2 separate regions of the Homo sapiens genome follow, and region 1 is linked to region 2. A link means that fine-mapping ties the variant in region 2 to the expression of a gene that starts in the linked region. Tissue or cell type: tibial artery. Region 2 holds a variant in brackets; the other region holds the start of a gene. All regions are shown on one strand. Distances are from middle to middle.

Region 1 (6,627 bases), 29 kb before region 2:
CACTGCTTGAGCCAGCCTGTGGCCAGTTTTCTGTTACTGGCAGCATCAGACACTGCCTGCCATGCTGTCTGTTGGCAGAAATGAGCAGGCTCTGGCCGATGGGGGGGGATACATGCAAGCCTGGGTGCTCACTCCCCTCCCAGGGGGGAAGAGAGGGTTAGGGGCCGCCCAGCCAGGGAGATGCCTCGATGAAGGGCCTGCCATGTAGCCACTCCACAGAGGCCGGGTAGGGGTGATGCTATGGCACCACCCACGCTGCAGCTGCCTTGGAAGCCGTGAGGTTCCATGCCCCAGGACTGAGATGCCATGTCCCGCTCCCTACAGCCCTGGCCGCCAATCCAGAGCCTGAAACACCTGGTGGTTGGGTCCTCACCCTCAGCCCTGTTGAAGGCAGGGAGGCGAGTGGCTGCTGCTTCCTGCTTCTAAAGTGGGAGATGGGAGCTGGTCTTGAGTAGGGGATTCTCCCCTCAAAGGGATGATAGGGTCAGATGCAGGGTGGTTGAGGATCAAGAGACTGAAAAATGGTCCATACAGTCCCCATCCCTCCACCACTCTGTCAGCACCCCTCCATCACCACCATCACCATCATCACTGTCATCATCACCATCACCATCACTATCACCACCACCATCACTATCACTATCGCCATCACCATCACTATCATCACCATTGCCTCCATCATCACCATCACCACCATCATCACCATCACCATCATCACCATTATCATCACCATCACCATCATCACCATCACCATCACTATCATCACCACCATCACCATCACCACCATCACCATCACCACCATCACTATCATCATCATCACCATCGTCACCATTATCATCACCATCATCACCATCACTATCATCACCACCACCACCATCACCACCACCATCACCATCATCATCACCATTATCATCACCATCACCATCATCACCATCACTATCATCACCATCATCGCCATCACTATCATCACCATCACCATCACCACCATCACTATCATCATCATCACCATCACTATCATCACCATCATCGCCATCACTATCATCATCATCACCACCATCACCATCACCACCATCACTATCATCATCATCATCACCATCACCATCATCACCATTATCATCATCACCATCACTATCATCACCACCACCACCATCACCACCACCATCACCACCACCATCACCATCATCATCACCATCACCATCATCACCATCACTATCATCACCATCATCGCCATCACTATCATCACCATCATCACCATCACCATCACCACCATCACTATCATCACCATCACCATCATCACCATCATCATCACCATCACTATCATCACCACCACTACCATCACCACCACCATCACCATCATCATCACCATTATCATCACTATCACCATCACCATCATCATCACCATTATCATCACTATCACCATCACCATCATCACCATCACTATCACCATCATCGCCATCACCATCATCACCATCATCGCCATCACCACCATCACCATCACCACCATCACCACCACCACCATCACCACCACCATCATCACCATTATCATCATCACCATCATCACCATCACTATCATCACCATCATCGCCATCACTATCATCACCATCATCACCATCACCATCACCACCATCACTATCATCATCACCATCACCATCATCACCATCATCATCACCATCATCATCACCATCACTATCATCACCACCACCACCATCACCACCACCATCACCATCATCACCATTATCATCACTATCACCATCACCATCATCACCATCACTATCATCACCATCATCGCCATCACCATCATCACCACCATCGCCATCACCACCATCACCATCACCACCATCACCATCACCATCATCACCATCACCACCACCACCATCATCACCATCACCACCACCATCACCACCATCTCCATCATCACTATCACCACCACCATCACCATCACCATCATCACCATCACCACCATCACCACCACCATCATCACCATCACCATCATCACCACCACCATCACCACCACCACCATCATCACCACCACCACCATCACCATCACCACCATCACCATCACCACCGCCATCACCACCATCATCACCATCACCATCATCACCACCATCACCATTATCACCATCACCACCATCACCACCATCACCACCATCACCACCATCATCACCATCACCACCATCATCACCATCACCATCATTGTCGCTGCTGCCACCACACTGTCACCACCGTCCTCACCTCCACTTCCACGCCACCATGCACATCACACCACAATGCCACGGCCACGGCCATGACTGCCACTTTGAGTCTGCTTTCCAAGCTGTCCATATACAAATGCCTAAAGGTCTAGTGTCTTTGGCTTCCATGGAGGAAGCATTCTCACTGCCACTGTCCCACTTACCCCCTTTAACCACCTAAGGATTGCCACATGCCCGGCCTGGGCCCAGGCCAGCAGGCATTACAGCTGGACTGTGGGCTGTGATAGGAAGGAAGGGCCATGGCCGTGCATCCACAGTTGAATTCTCACTCCTGGGACCCTGTCACTGCTGGGACAGGCCCGAGGATGCCAACTGCAGGTGCAGGACCCCATAGCCATGGCTGGGCTCCCCTCTCCATGCACAGGGTGGGGCCTCTGCCATCTGGCCCCAGAGTGTCAGTGTACCCAGGGGGCCTGGACATCCGTCAGGGTGGGGGCTTGGTGGGCACCTGGGAGCTGCCAGGAGACAGGGGAGCTCTCCTTGCCCAGCTGATGCTGGTCTGGAAGGACCTGAGTTGGGAGGAGGAGCTCCATGCACCCGGCTCTCCCCACCTCGCCTTTTCAGACCACCTCCGAGCCACTCTGGGGTGCATGGAGCCAGGAGCCCAGGTGGGTAGTGACTGCCCGGGCCAGGGCTTTTCCCTCAGAGCTCAGCTTGTGGGGAAGGAGGAACTGCTGGGGTTCACCCCATAGGCGGTGGAGGGAGTCACACAGACAGGCAACTGGTGACCTGGGAACTGGGGAGAGCCAGGCCACGCCCCACTGGGGCAGGGAGGTGCCTCCCCACCAGGAGCCCAGGCCCCGGGTAAAGCTGCCTGCCCACCGTGTCCTCCATCACTGGAGCTGACCTTAAGCCCCCCCACTCCTGAGGACACGAGGCTCCACTGGTCAGGCACGTGGTGGTGCTATCCCCGCCCGATCCCCAGCTCCCTGCCCTACCCTGGGCTCCTCCCCAATTTCCTTTAAAGTCCAGAAAATGCAGCCGGGCACGGTGGCTCACGCCTGTAATCCCAGCACTTTGGGAGGCCGAGGTGGACAGATCACAAGGTCAGGAGATCAAGACCATCCTGGCTAACACAGTGAAACCCCGTCTCTTCTAAAAAATACAAAAAATTAGCCGGGCGTGGTGGCGGGCGCCTGTAGTCCCAGCTACTCGGGAGGCTGAGGCAGGAGAATGGCGTGAACCCGTGAGGCGGCGCTTGCAGTGAGCCGAGATCACGCCACTGCGCTCCAGCCTGGGTGACAGAGCGAGACTCTGTCTCAAAAAATAAATAAATAAATGAAGTCCAGAAAATGGGGTGGAGAAAAAGAAGGGGAGATATGGACCCCCCACAGCCTCCTGCCCACATGCCCCTCATGGCACCAGGCCAGGCTGTGGGCCTCCTGCCCCTGCTGGGCACTGCCCATCGCCTGGCCCACACCTCTCCAGTCTCAGACTCCGCAGCTGCCCAGGGCTTGGCTGAGACATTCTCCAGCTATGCTGAGAAAGGCCAGGAACCCTTGCCTCTGACCCTGAAGCCACCACCCCTCAGTGGGGGTCGCCTGGGCATGGCCCGAGGCCCACCCACCTACACCCTGAGTGGCCACACATGTCCCACATGGACCCCCAGCCCAGAACAGACATGTGAACGCACAGACACGATACCACTCCCCGTGAGACCCCCACGGCCTCCTCCCTGAAGCAGGGGGGTCCCAGCACCCCTCAGGAGGTCGCCACCTGTGCCCTCCCTACCTTGCCGCACAGAGACGTAGCGGTGGTTGGCAGCCACCAGCACCACCTGTGGGTGACTCTCCTCCAGATCAAAGAGCTCATCCTTGCCAGGTCGCGTGTTTCGGCCGGCCTTGAGGGTGCCTGCGGGCCCCACGGGTGCCAGGTAGTGGCCGTCGCAGTCCTTGAAGGCCAGCTTGCCCGCCTTGAACTCCAGCGTGTAGCAGGCACGGGGCTCAGGCTCCCAGACCAGACGGCCGTCGCTGCGCAGGTAGCGGCTGTCACAGGACTTGAGGCAGTACCGTCGGCTCCGGAAGATGAGGGTGAGGAGGGCGTCCACGCCCCAGGGCTTGTCTCCGTCTGCGGCCATCTCGTCCTCCCGCGGGCACAGGTGCACGTAGCGCCGCCGGCTCACGCTCAGCAGGTGGGCCTGCGGGTGGATGGCCAGGTGCACGGTCCACAGCTCGGCCGGGGAAACGGCTGTGGCGAAGCAGGACAGCTGGTCCTCGGTGCCTCCGAAGAAGCGGCCGTGCGGCTCGGACCGCAGCACCCAGCGCCCATCTGGCTGCGGCAGGACCAGGAAGCGGCAGTCACGGCCCGGCTGCTCTGCCTCACAGGCCACGCGCCCGTCCTCTTCTGCCGACAGGTAGCGGCCCAGGTGGCTGCTGCGGAGCAGCACAGCCGTGCCTTGTCCTGGGTCGGGTTCCAGCACCCAGGTCTGCTTCCTCTTGAGGCTGGGTGCCGAGGCATTGACCTTGAAGCCGAAGCTCTCAGCTGTCAGGTAGCGGTCAGTGTCGTTGACGAGGCCAAACTGGATCTTCAGCACCTGGTGCAGGCCGTTCGTCGGCATCTTCAGGCTGGCCGGGTCCCCGGAGGGGCCTGGGATGCGCCCTCTGAGTGCTCACGGCCCCCGCGGTCCCCCAGAAGCCCGGGTCGGCTCGGCTGGCCCACAGCCCCCAGACCCAGCCGGCGTCACGAACCCCCTGCCTGCTCTGACCCGCCTCTGACCCGCGGCAGCAGCCTGGGCAGCTCTTAGAGGGCCCGCGGGCAGCAGAGGGCGGGCGGGGAGGGCGGATCAGAGACGTGCGGCTTAGGAGCAGCACCTTTCATTACCCTCAGCTTGGATTTCAGCCACTCCCGGATTGCACAGAGCCCAGAGCCCGAGGGCCTGAGGGCCTACGGGGCTGGAGGGCAGGGTTGATCCCCTTTTCCTCATAGCGTGGGCCCAGCGCCCCTCTTCACGGCCCTGCACCTTTTGGCCTCTCTCGTTCCTGCCCCCCTCCTCCAACCCCGTGTGGGCTCCCGGCCCGGCCCGGCCCAGCCCTTCCGGATGTAGAAGCCGTCCAGTGGAACGCTCACGGCTCGGCCGCAACCTGATCGCCGCCCGTACCCTCGGTGGCCGCCAGGCCCTCAGCTGGATCCAGTTACTGCTTCTCTGATTCCTGCTGCCAGAAGCATAGCAAGGACCCCAGCCACAACCTGCAGCCCAGGTCGCCTCCACCCCAGACCGGCCTCTGGCCACACTGCTCAGGCCCCAGAATGACGCACTGGACTGCCACCCACGCTGGAGGGTGGAACACAGTGGCCGTGCAGCCCTGCAGGCAGGGGGCAGAGTCAGAGGCCCTGGGCCAGGCTGGCCCGGCCCCAGCGCACTCCTGTGCGCTCTGAGCAAGTTGCTGGGCCCTGAGGCTGCCCCCTCCTCTGCTGTGAGCTGGAGTGAAGCCAGCCTCACTTCACTTTGGAGTCTTTACGGATGTGGATCCAGGAGGCTGGTGGGACGATGTCCACCCCATGCTCCCAGCGGTGGCCCTTGGAATCTGGGAGAGGATGAAGGCCAGCAGGCCGGGAGAGACTGGAAGTGGTCACACCTGTCTACAGCACCTCCTTGCTCTGGGCCACCTGGCTGTACCCCTTCCCCAGAGCCTGAGGGGCACTGGGCCCTGCTCACCGTGCCTGGCTCCTGCACCTGCCTCAGGGGCTTGGGGCCAAGTAGTGAAACCAGAGCTGGCCACCCTGGGCCAGGGCCAGCCCGGTGTCCTCTTCCTCATAACAGCGTGTGACCCTCCCGTCTCCCTGGGGACTGGGAACAGGGGCCACAGGCCCCTTCCGGTCATGGCCTGGAGTCACTCCCCTGTCCTCCTGGGCCCATCTCCTGAGTGGCCATCATGGGGGTCCCCGTAGGGCAGGAGTCTAGCCAAAAGCAAGGGGCCTGGGCTGGGCACCTGTGGGCTCCAGAGGTGGGCAGGGCCATGGTGGCAGAGTGTGCACAGACTCAGGGGCTCTTCCTCTGTCCTCTAAGCCCTGGACAGCAACCGTGCCAGGCACCTGCAGACACAGGGGAGGAAAAAGAGGAGACCTGTCCCCACTGTCCCCACGCTCAGGGGCCAGGGTGGGGGCAGAGAGACTCCCACATGCAAATACCCCCCAGGGCACAGCGTACGCCACGACGCCAGGGCCTGCTCTCGCCTCTCCCTGTGTGCTGGCCTCATCCGCCTCTATGATTCACACGCATTTATGAGGCACCAACTGTGTGCGAAACCAGGTCACGTGCCAGGCACCATCCTGGGGAGACGCAGTCTGGGGTTTCACCCCCTTCCCAGAGACGATGCCCACACACACTCTCCCACAGTTTCCAGGGGACTGAGGACACAGGCCTAGCACCGATGCC
Region 2 (10,849 bases):
AGCTCACCACAACCTCCACCTCCTGGGTTCAAGCGATTCTCCTGCCTCAGCCTCCCAAGTAGCTGGGATTACAGGCATGCGCCACCGCGCCCAGCTAATTTTGTATTTTCGGTAGAGATGGGGTTTCTCCATGTTGGTCAGTCTGGTCTCAAACTCCTGACCTCAGGTGATCCGTCCACCTCGGCCTCCCAAAGTGCTGGGATTACAGGCATGAGCCACCGCGCCCGGCTGCAACAGCAATATATTGACTCAGAGGAGGACAGGTGCTGCTGAAAGGGGCTGAGAGAATCTGATCCTGGCTCAGCACAGCTGGGGATTGGCCTCCTCCATGGCCTTTTGTTTGTTTGCTTTTGTGTTTTTTTTGGAGACAGCATCTCACTATGTTGCCCAGGCTGAACTCCTGGACTCAATGGTCCTCCTGCTTAGGCCTCCCAAAGTGCTGGGATTACAGGCATGAGCCACTGCACCCAGCCTAGGACTCTTTTTGAAAAAACAACCACAAGCTGGGCGCGGTGGCTCATTCCTGTAATCCCACCACTTTGGGAAGCCGAGACGGGCGGATCACGAGGTCAGGAGTTCAAGACCAGCCTGGCCAACATGGTGAAACCCATCTCTACTAAAAATACAAAAATTAGCCAGGCATGGTGGCGTGCGCCTGTAATCCCAGCTATTCCAGAGGCTGAGGCAGGAGAATTGCTTGAACCCACATGGCAGAGGTTGCAGTGAGCCGAGATTGAGCCACTGCACTCCAGCCTGGGTGACAGAGCAAGACTCTATCTCAAAAAAAAAAAAAAAAAAAAAAAAATCACAGTATCATGCCCCCACCCACCAATTATTGATCGATACTTAGTATCATCTAATGTCCAAATTTCCTTGGTTGTCTTAAATTTTTTGTTGTTGTTTTGTTTGTCTGTTTTTTTGGGGGGACAGGGTCTTGCTTTGTTGCCCAGGCTAGAGTGCAGTGGCACAATCACAGCTCACTGCAGCCTCGACTTCCTAGGCTCAAGCAATCCTCCCACCTCAGCCGCTTGAGTAGCTGGGACTACAGGCGTGCACCACCATGCCCAGATAATTTTTAAACTTTCTGTAGAGATGGGGTCTCCCTATGTTGCTTAGGCTGGTCTCAAGCTCCTGGTCTCAAGAGATCCTCTCACCTCAGCCTCCTAAAATGTGGCGATTACAGGTGTGAGCCACCATGCCCAGCCTTAAATTTCTTTCTTTTTTTTTTTTGAGACGGAGTCTCACTCTGTCACCCGGGCTGGAGTGCAGTGGTGTGATCTCGGCTCGCTGCAAGCTCCGCCTCCTGGGTTCATGCCATTCTCCTGCCTCAGCCTCCCGAGTAGCTGGGACTACAGGCGCCCACCACCACGCCCGGCTGGTGTATTTTTAGTAGAGACGGGGTATTTTTTTTGTATTTTTTTGTATTTTTTTTGTATTTTTAGTAGAGACGGGGTTTCACCGTGTTGGCCAGGATGGTCTCGATCTCCTGACCTCGTGATCCACCCGCCTCGGCCCCCCAAAGTGCTGGGATTACAGGCGTGAGCCACCGCGACCCACCTAAATTTCTTTTAACGGTTGGTTTCCAATCATTGCACTTGGCCACTATGTCTCTTAAATCTCTTTTAACCGCGGGATTTACCCTCTTTCATTTTTCTCCTTTCAGGTTATTTGTGGAAGAAGGCAGGTCTTTTGTTCCAAAGGGTTCCACCTGTCTGGATTTTGCTGATTTCGTCCTTGTGGTTGATGTGGCACGTTCCTCAACCCTTATATTTCCTATAGTCAGTTAGCTCTAGGTGTAAATGTCCAAACTGGTCTGTTTAATCTCATTCAGGTTGATTTTTTTAGCAAGAAGATGACCACAGGGTGGGTGCAACTTCATGGAGAGGGAAAGAGTCCCACAGAGCCTGATGTTGTGATATTAGCAGCCATTGGAAATCCCTGCCAGGACCTGCTATTTCATTAGTGGTTACAAATTATTCTCCCCCTCCACTCCCCTCCCCTCCCTCTTTTCTCCTCTCCTCCTCTCCCTCCCTCCCTCCTTCTCTCCTTCCCTCCTTCCCTCCCTCCCTTTCTTTTTTGATGGAGTCTCACTCTCTCGCCGCTGGAGTGCGGCCTCCGCCTCCAGTTTCCAGCAATTCTCCTGCCTCAGCCTCCTGAGTAGCTGGGACTATAGGCGCCCACCACCACGCCTGGCTAATTTTTTTTTTGTATTTTTAGTAGAGATGGGATTTCACCGTGTTAGCCAGGATGGTCTTGATCTCCTGACCTCGTGATCTGCCTGTCTCGGCCTCCCAGAGTGCTGGGATTACAGGCGTGAGCCACTGCGCCTGGCCTATTTCTTTCTTTTTTTTAATGGAGTTTTGCTCTTGTTGCCCAGACTGGAGTCCGGTGGTGTGATCTCGGCTCACTGTAACCTCCACCTTCTGGGTTCAAGCGATTCTCCTGCCTCAGCTTCCCAAGTAGCTGGGATTATAGGTGCCCACCACCATGCCCCACTAATTTTTGTATTTTCTGTAGAGCCAGGGTTTCACCATGTTGGTTGGCCAGGCTGGTCTTGAACTTCTGACCTCAGGTGATCTGCCCACCTTGGCCTTCCAAAGTGCTGGGATTACAGGCATGAGGCACTGCACCTGGCCTTTTCTTTTCTTTTCTTCTTTTCTTTCCCTTTCTCCCTCCCTTTCTTCTCCCTTCCTTCCTTCCTTCCCTTCTTTCTTTCCCTCCCTCCCTCCCTTCTTTCTTTTTCTTTTTTCTTTCTTTCCTTTTTTCTCTCTTTCTTTTCTTTCTCCTCTTTCTTTCTTGCTTGCTTTCTTTCTTGCTTGCTTTCCTTCTTCCTTTCCTCTTTCCTTTCTTTCTTTCTTTTCTTCTTTCCAGGGTCTTGCTCTGTCACCCTGGCTGGAGTGCAGTGGCAATAGAGGCTCACTGTAGCCTTGACCTCAGGGGCTCAAGCAATCCTCCCACCTCAGTCTCCCTAGTAGCTAGGACCAGCACGCCTGGTTAATGGTTTTCTAATTCTATCCTTCCTTTTTTTTCTTTTTGAGATGGAGTCTCGCTCTGTCGCCCAGGCTGGGGTGCAGGGGCGCGATCTCGGCTCACTACAAGTTCCGCCTCCTGGGTTCACACCATTCTCCTGCCTCAGCCTCCCGAGTAGCTGGGACCACAGGCGCCCGCCACCACGCCTGGCTAATTTTTTGTATTTTTACTAGAGACGGGGTTTCACAGTGTTAGCCAGGATGGTCTCGATCTCCTGACCTCGTGATCCGCCCGCCTCGGCCTCCCAAAGTGCTGGGATTACAGGTGTAAGCCACCGCGCCCAGCCTGTTTTCAATATCTTAAATGCCATTCAGCTTAGTTAACAGAAACTTCTGGAAGGGATGCCTGCTCTGAGAAGTGTCACACGTGCTGGGGGACTTCAGGGCACTCCTGAAAGGGCTCCCCTTCCCCAGGATCCCTGGGTCCTGATGGTAGGCAGAGGTGGAGGATGTTCTCCAAGCCGAGCCTTCCTGCAGCTTTCAGAGCCTGTCCACACCACCGGCATCCCTCTACCCAGACCAATTTTCCCCGGCAGGAGATGGACATTGTGTTTATTGGATGCAATTTCAAACCCCTTTCATGTTTTCATAGAGGATGGAGACCAAGGGGGAAGTTCAGTGGTTCACGTTGGCAAATCCTGGCTCCGATGACTGAGAGATTTTCTGACTTACAGGACCCTTGCTTGGTTGGAGGTGGGTCCTAAACATCAGAGCCAGAGACAGCTGTGGGCAGGTGTTTTCCTCTGTGCAGCACGTGGGCCAAGTGCTGGGGCTGCCTGCTGTACACAGAGCACCTCGTGGCCTCCCATGGCTCCCTTCAGCTATGCTTGGCCTGCCCGCCTGCTGGTGGTCGTTTGGAATCCTTTCCTGCTGGAAAGGATGTGTCCCCGTGCTGTCCAGCTCCCTGCTGGCGGCCCTTCTCAGGGTGCCCTCCAGAGAGGACTGCCGTGGTGCATACTTCACACATGATGCAGCATCATGGTCTATGTGAATGGCATCCCCTGCAGTTGTGCAGTGCACCACCTGTGCAGCCGTCCACAGCATCCCCACACAGCCCAGTCCTCTCCCGGGAAGCACGCCTTCCTCCACTTCCACCCTCTGTTACTCGTCCATCTCCCTCCCCGATATGCAGGATTAAAAAAAAATTTCTTTCTTTTTTTTTTTTTTTTTTTTTTGAGACAGAGTTTTTGCTCTGTTGCCCAGGCTGGAATGCAATAGTGCAGTCTCAGCTCACTGCAACCTCTGCCTCCTGGGTTCAAGCGATTCTCCTGCCTCAGCCTCCCAAGTGGCTGGGATTACAGGCATCCACCACCACACCCAGATAATTTTTATATTTTTAGTAGAGATGGGGTTTCACCATGTTGGCCAGGCTGGTCTTGAACTCGTGACCTCAGTTGATCCACCCTCCTTGGCCTCCCAAAGTGCTAGGATTACAGGTGTGAGCCACCACGCCCAGCCCCCCAAAAAATTTGTTTTAGATTATGGTAAAACATGCATAACACAAAATTGATCATTTTAATGGTGTTGAAGTGTACAGTCATTACGTCACAAAGCTGTGCCTCTATTACCACATGTTCAGAATTCTTTCATCTTCCCAAACTGAAACTCTACAACTATTTTCTTTTATTTTTTTGAGACGGAGTCTTGCTCTGTCACTAGGCTGCAGTGCAGTGGCACGATCTCGGCTCACTGCAACCTCCGCCTCCCGGGTTCAAGGGATTCTCCTGCCTCAGCCTCCCAAGTAGCTGGGACTACAGGCATGCACCAACACATCTGGCTACTTTTTGTATTTTTAGTAGAGACAGGGTTTCACCATGTTGGCCAGGCTGGTCTCAAACTCCTGACCTCAGGCAATCCTCCCACCTCGGCCTCCCAAAGTACTGGAATTACAGGCGTGAGCCACCATGCCG[A/G]CTGAAACTCTATATCTATTAAACAACAATTTTCTTCCTTTTTTTTTTTTTTCTTTTTTTGGACAGGGTCTTGCAGTGTAACATAAGCCATAGTGAACTGGCATAATCACAGTTGACCACAGCCTCAACCTCCCTGACTCCAGCAATCTGCCCATCTCAGCCTCTGGAGTAGCTGGGACCACAGGCGTGTGCCACCACGCCTGGCTAATTTAATTTATTTACTTTTATTTATTTATTTTTTAGAGACAGGGTCTCACTTTGTTGCCCATGCTGAAGTGCAGTGGTGCAAGCTCAGTCACTGGCTGGGCTCAGGTGATCTTCCCACCTCGGCCTCCTGAGTAGCTGGGAATACAGGTGCATGCCACCAAGCCCGGCTAATTTTTTGGTATTTTTAGGAAAGACGAGGTTTCACCGTATCACTCAGGCTGGTCTCGAGCTCCTGAACTCAAGCAATCTGCCTGCCTTGGACTCCCAAAGTGCTGAGACTACAGGCATGAGCCACTGCGCCCGGCCAATTTTATTTATTTATTTATTTTATAGAGATGGGGTCTTGCCATGTTGCCCAGGCTGGTCTCCAACTCTTGGGCTCAACCAGTCCTTCTGCCTCTGCCTTCCAAAGTGTTGGTGTTGGGATTACAGATGTGAGCCACCACACCTTCCTTCCTTTTTTTTTTTTTTGAGACAGATTCTCCATCATCCAGGCTGGAGTGCAGTGGCGTGATCTCAGGCTCACTGCAACCTCTGTCTCTCTTTTTTTTTTTTTTTTTTTTTTTTTTGAGATGGAGTGTCACTCTGTTGCCAAGGCTGGAGTGCAGTGGCACGATCTCGGCTCACTGCTACCTCCGCCTCCCGGATTCAAGTGATTCTCCTGCCTCAGCCTCCTGAGTAGCTGGGACTACAGGTGCCCACCACCACATCTGGATAATTTTTGTATTTTTAGAAGAGCCGGGGTTTCACCATGTTGGCCAGGCTGGTCTCCAACTCCTGACCTCAAGTGATCCACCTGCCTCACCCTCTGGGTTGGGATTACAGGCGTGAGCCACCGTGCCTGGCCCTTCCTTTTTAAAGCTGAGAAATACTGCAGTATATGTCTATACTACATTCTGCTTGTGAAGTATGTGTTCCAGGGCCTGCCTGCAGTTCTCTGGGGTCTGTGGCCGGCGTGGACTGCTGGTCATAGGGTCATTCTGTGCACCTTTCTGAGGAACCAACAGTTCTCCACAGCAGCTGCCTCATCTTGCATTCCCATCGGCAGTGGACAAGAGTTCCAGTTGCTTCACATCCTCAGTGGCACTTGTTTTCTATATTTTGGATAATTGCCACCCTGGCGGGTGTGCTGCAAGCCCCTGAGGACAGGCTGACCTGCTCACCGGGCCACCCACCCCTCATCCGGGACCTACCAGGCTCAGATGGAGCCTCCCAGGAAATAGCTGAGATTCCTCTGAACGAACAAACAGACTCCATGCAGCCTTTCAGGCTCTTAAGACCCAGCTGCCCAGGGACACACTTAGCTTGGAGTTTAGGGAGCAGAACAGAACAGGAAGGGACAGGAGGCCTGTCTGCCCCCTGGCAGGACGGGTGGTCCAGAGGAGCCCGGGACCTTCAGGCATGGAGGCCTACCTAGGATAAACGGATACCTGGGCTCAACCCACTTGGAGAACTTCAGCCTAGAGGGTCCCCGGCTCCAGAACCTGCAGCCAGGGTGGCAGGGCTGTTGGCAGCCTGGCTTCCCTACCAGTGCCCGAGGGGCTCTGCTCCTCCCACGGCGGTTCCCCAGACAGATGCTCAGAAGAAAGCCAATGCATGCCCCAGCTGTGGCTCAGCAGTGGGGTCTCCACCTCCGAGGCCCAACAGAGGCCCTCCCTGTCCTCTCGCCATGGCCCCCTGCTGCTCCTCACTGCCTAGGGTGGCCTGGACCTGGTCGCCCAGGCAAGCGTCCAGCTTCTCTCCTGGGGCGGAGGGTCGGGGGACTGAGGGGTGATGTCTGTCCGAGCTGGGCTCCCACACTGGGGCTCATCCCGTGGGACCCCCACTTTGCATGGCCGAGGGCTGGAGGGGCTACGAGGCCCGCGGGATCAGAGTCGGCCTGGGTCCCAGCCAAGGCCCATTTCCCGACTCTCCTGGCCCGGGTCGGCACCCGGATTTGTGGCGTCCCCTCCCCTCGTGGCTGCAGGACCGCAGGGCTGCCTGGGGAGGCCTGGCCAGGCCCTGCCCTCTCTGGGCTGCTCCCTCCCCAGATCCTGGACACGTCCAGCTCAGCTCCGTGGCGCTAATAAGCCCCTAGCCGGGGTGCGGCAGGCGGGGGTCACAGAGAAGCTGCGGGGCTGGGCGTGGGCAGAGCGCGGCGCGGGCGCGAAGCAAGAGGAGCCGCAGATGGCCGGGGCGCGGGGCCGTAGAGCGGGGAGCAGGGCCGGGGCGCTGTCCCGGGCGAGGCGGGGCCGGCAGCGAGGACGTTGGCGCCACGCCCGCGCGTGCCCGTGCCTTGGTTTCCCCAGAGCGAGGCCGACGTCAGGCTGCGAGCTGGTCGCAGGGGAAAGCCCCGATCTCAACCCCCTCTGTCGCTGCGGCACCGCCTGGTCCATCGGCTGACCGCCTCCGCCCTGGAAGGCGCACGGGCTCTGACCCCCGAGGGCTCCAGCCCCCTGCCCTGGGCTCCCATCCGTGGCCCGTGAGGCCCACGCCTCCCGTGCCCAGAGGTGGGCCCTGACCCCGCCACCCCGGCAGGATGCGTGAGGCTGGTGAGGAAGCTCCAGGGACGCCTCAGCGGTGCCAGGGGCCTCAGAACTGCGGGCCACTGGCTGTGACTGTGGCACCTGGGCCGGCCCTGGTCAGAGGCTCATCCTCCGGGAGGCTGGAGCAGGCCGAGCCGCGAGGAAGATTCTGCTTGTATGCAACAGGCATAGCTTCCTTTCCTTCTTTGAAGTTGTTTCAAATTTTGAGACAGGATCTTGCTCTGTCGCCCAGCCTGGAGTGCAGTGGCAAGATCACAGCTCACTGCAGCCTCAACCTCCCAAGCTCAAGTGATCCTCCCACCTCAGCCTCCTGAATAGCTGGAACTACAGGCACATGCCACCATACCCGGTTCTTTTTTTTTTTTTTTTTTTTTGACGGAATCTCGCTCTGTCGCCCAGGCTGGGGTGCAGTGGCATGATCTCGGCTAACCGCAACCTCCACCTCTCGGGTTCAAGCGATTCTCCTGCCTCAGCCTCCCAAGTAGCTGGGATTACAGGCACACACCACCACGCCCGGCTAATTTTGTACTTTTAGTAGAGACAGTGTTTCACTATGTTGGCCAGGCTGGTCTCGAACTCCTGACCTCAGCTGATCTGCCCACTTCCGCCTCCCAAAGTGCTGGGACTGCAGGAGTGAGCCCCCGCTCCCAGCCATCCACTTTTGAGCATACAGTTGGGCACTGAGCATCTGCACTGTTGTTCAGCCAAAATCTCCAGAACTTTCATCTTGCAAAACCAAAAAGCTGTACCCATCAAACAACTCCTTCTCCTCCACCCAGCCCCCGGCAGCCACCATTTCACTTTCTGTCTGTATGAATTTAGCTGCTCTAGGTCCCTCCTACATGTGGAACTGTACAGGATTTGTCTTTTGTGACTGGCCTATTTCACTTAACGCACAGTCCTCAAGGCGGACCTGTGGTGCAGAGTGTGTTGGAATTTGAATTTCCGTGCTCTTTTTTTTTTTTTTTTTTGAGATGGAGTTTCACTTGTCAGCCAGGCTGGAGTGCAAGTGGCATGATCTCGGCTCACTGCAACCTCCGCCTCCTGGGTTCAAGCAATTCTCCTGCCTCAACCTCCCAAGTAGCTGGGACTACAGGTGTGCACCATCACGCCCGGCTACTTTTTGTGTTTTTTAAAATTAGAGATTGGGTTTCACCATATTGGCCAGGCTGGTCTCAAACTCTTGACCTCAAGCGATCCACCCGCCTCGGCCTCCCAAAGTGCTGGGAATACAGATGTGAGCCACTGTGCCCAGCCCAAGTTTTAAATTTTAATAATATCAATTCAGTTTTTTCTTTAATAGATAATGATTTTGGTGCTGTATGTAAAAACTCACGACCTGGTCAGGTGCAGTGGCTCATGCCTGTAATCCCAGCACTTTGGGAGGCCGAGATGGGTAGATCACTTGAGGTCAGGAGTTCAAGACCAGCCTGGCCAACACGGTGAAACCCCGTCTCCACTAAAAATACAAAAATTAGCCGAGTATGGTGATGAGCGCCTGTGATACTAGCTACTTGGGAGGCTGAGGCAGGAGAATTGCTTGAACCCAGGAGGCGGTGGTTTCAGTGAGCTGAGATCATGCCATTGCACTCCAGCCTGGGACACAGATTGAGACTCCATCTCAAAAAAAAAACAAAAACAAAAAACAAACAAAAAAACTCATGACCTAATTTAAGGTCATGTAGATTTTCTCCTATGTTTTGTTCTAGAACTTTTATAATTTTGCATTTTACATTTATGTCCATGGTTCATTTTTTTTTCTTTTCTTTTTTTTGAGATGGAGTCTCACTCTGTTGCCCAGGCTGGAGTGCAGTGTCACGATCTTGGCTCACTGACATAGCTGCCTCCCAGCTTCAAGCGATTCTCCTGCCTCAGCCTCCTGAGTATCTGGGATTACAGGCATGTGGCACCACAACTGGCTAATTTTTATTGTATTTTTAGCAGAAATGGGGTTTCACCATTTTGGCCAGGCTGGTCTCCAACTCTTGATCTCAAGTGATTTGCCCACCTTGGCCTTCCAAAGTGCTGGGATTACAGGCATGAGCCACTATGCCCGGCCTCCATTTTTTTTTTTCTTTTTGAGATAGGGTCTCACTCTGTCACCCAGTCTGTAGTGCAGTGGCATGATCATAGCTTACTGCAGCCTTGACCTCCTGGGCTCAAGCCTCCCCATGTAGCTGGGGCTAAAGGTGTGAGCCACCATGCTCGGTGAATTTTTAATTTTTTTGTAGAGATGGGGTCTCACCATATTGCCCAGGCTGGCCTCGAACTCTTGGTCTCAAGCAGTCCTCCCACATCAGTCTTCCAAAGTGCTGGGATTACAGGCATAAACCATTGAGCCGGGCTGCAAGCATTCTTATTTATGGCATCATTATGAACTTGTCTGGGAATGTCCACATTTTCAAAGCTCTCAGCCAACCATCTTTAGGTTTCTCCCAGGTATTTTCATTTTAAGGCTTTTCCTAATTTTCAAGGGGAAGTTTTTTTAAATAGGAGGAATTTTCCAAACATTCCTGCCAAGTAATTTCAAATGAGGCAGGTTTGCACAACTGGCTTGTTGCTTTCAATAAATAATACCTTGTAAGACTTTGCCAAGACAACTACAGGTATATCCTAATCTTTCCATTTGCCATTAGAACTTAAGTTTTTTCCCCGGGTTATTAAATATTCATTGTAGGATGGCTGGACTGAGATTCACTTACTCTCCTCATTGGACAAGTCAGTTGCTGCCACATGATTGGGTTATAATCAACTCTGTCATGATGACATGAGTGTTAAAGGGTTCCCACCACTCCAGCCACTACCTTTTTTTTTTTTTTTTAAGAGATGGGGGTCTCAGTGTGTTGCCCAGGCTGGAGTGCAGTGGTGCAATCATAGCTCACTGCAGCTTTGGCCTCCAGGGTTGAAGCCATCCTCCCACCTCAGCCTCCCAAGTAGCTGGGACTGCAGGCATGATCCACACTGCCTGGCTAATTTTTACACTTTTTGTAGAAACGGGGTTTCACCCTGTTGCCCAGGCTGGTCTTGAACACCTGGGTTCAAGTGATCCGCTGGCCTCGGCCTCCCAAAATGCTGGGATTACAGGCGTCCACCACGCCTAGCCCCTACCACCATCTTTTTTTTTTTTTTTTTTTTTTTGAGATGGAGTTTCGCTCTTTTTCCCCAGGCTGCAGTGCAA

Alleles and levels. Positions count from the first base shown, and alleles are read on the strand shown. Sizes are in standard deviations (SD) of each study's normalised expression.
For the expression in tibial artery of the gene that starts at base 4,964 in region 1, A is the high allele of the variant in region 2 and G is the other (moderate effect, 0.51 SD a copy in GTEx).

What was found. PIP is the estimated chance that this variant, and not a neighbour inherited with it, causes the effect.
Region 1: it holds the start of FSCN2, and the variant in region 2 is the best candidate, but not a certain one, in a credible set for the expression of FSCN2 in tibial artery (GTEx, PIP 0.68).

The regions. Positions count from the first base shown.
Region 1 is chr17:81,526,714-81,533,340 of GRCh38, reverse strand. It overlaps FSCN2 (fascin actin-bundling protein 2, retinal), which reads right to left and starts at 4,964. Exons shown (of 5, transcript NM_012418.4): 1 at 3,984-4,964. The coding sequence starts at 4,809. RefSeq lists enhancers at 3,990-4,515, 4,516-5,042.
Region 2 is chr17:81,495,751-81,506,599 of GRCh38, reverse strand. No RefSeq gene overlaps it. Among named protein-coding and RNA genes, the nearest start is that of ACTG1, 12 kb to the left of the region's middle. RefSeq lists an enhancer at 5,984-6,707. The variant A/G (reference allele first, on the strand shown) is at 4,940.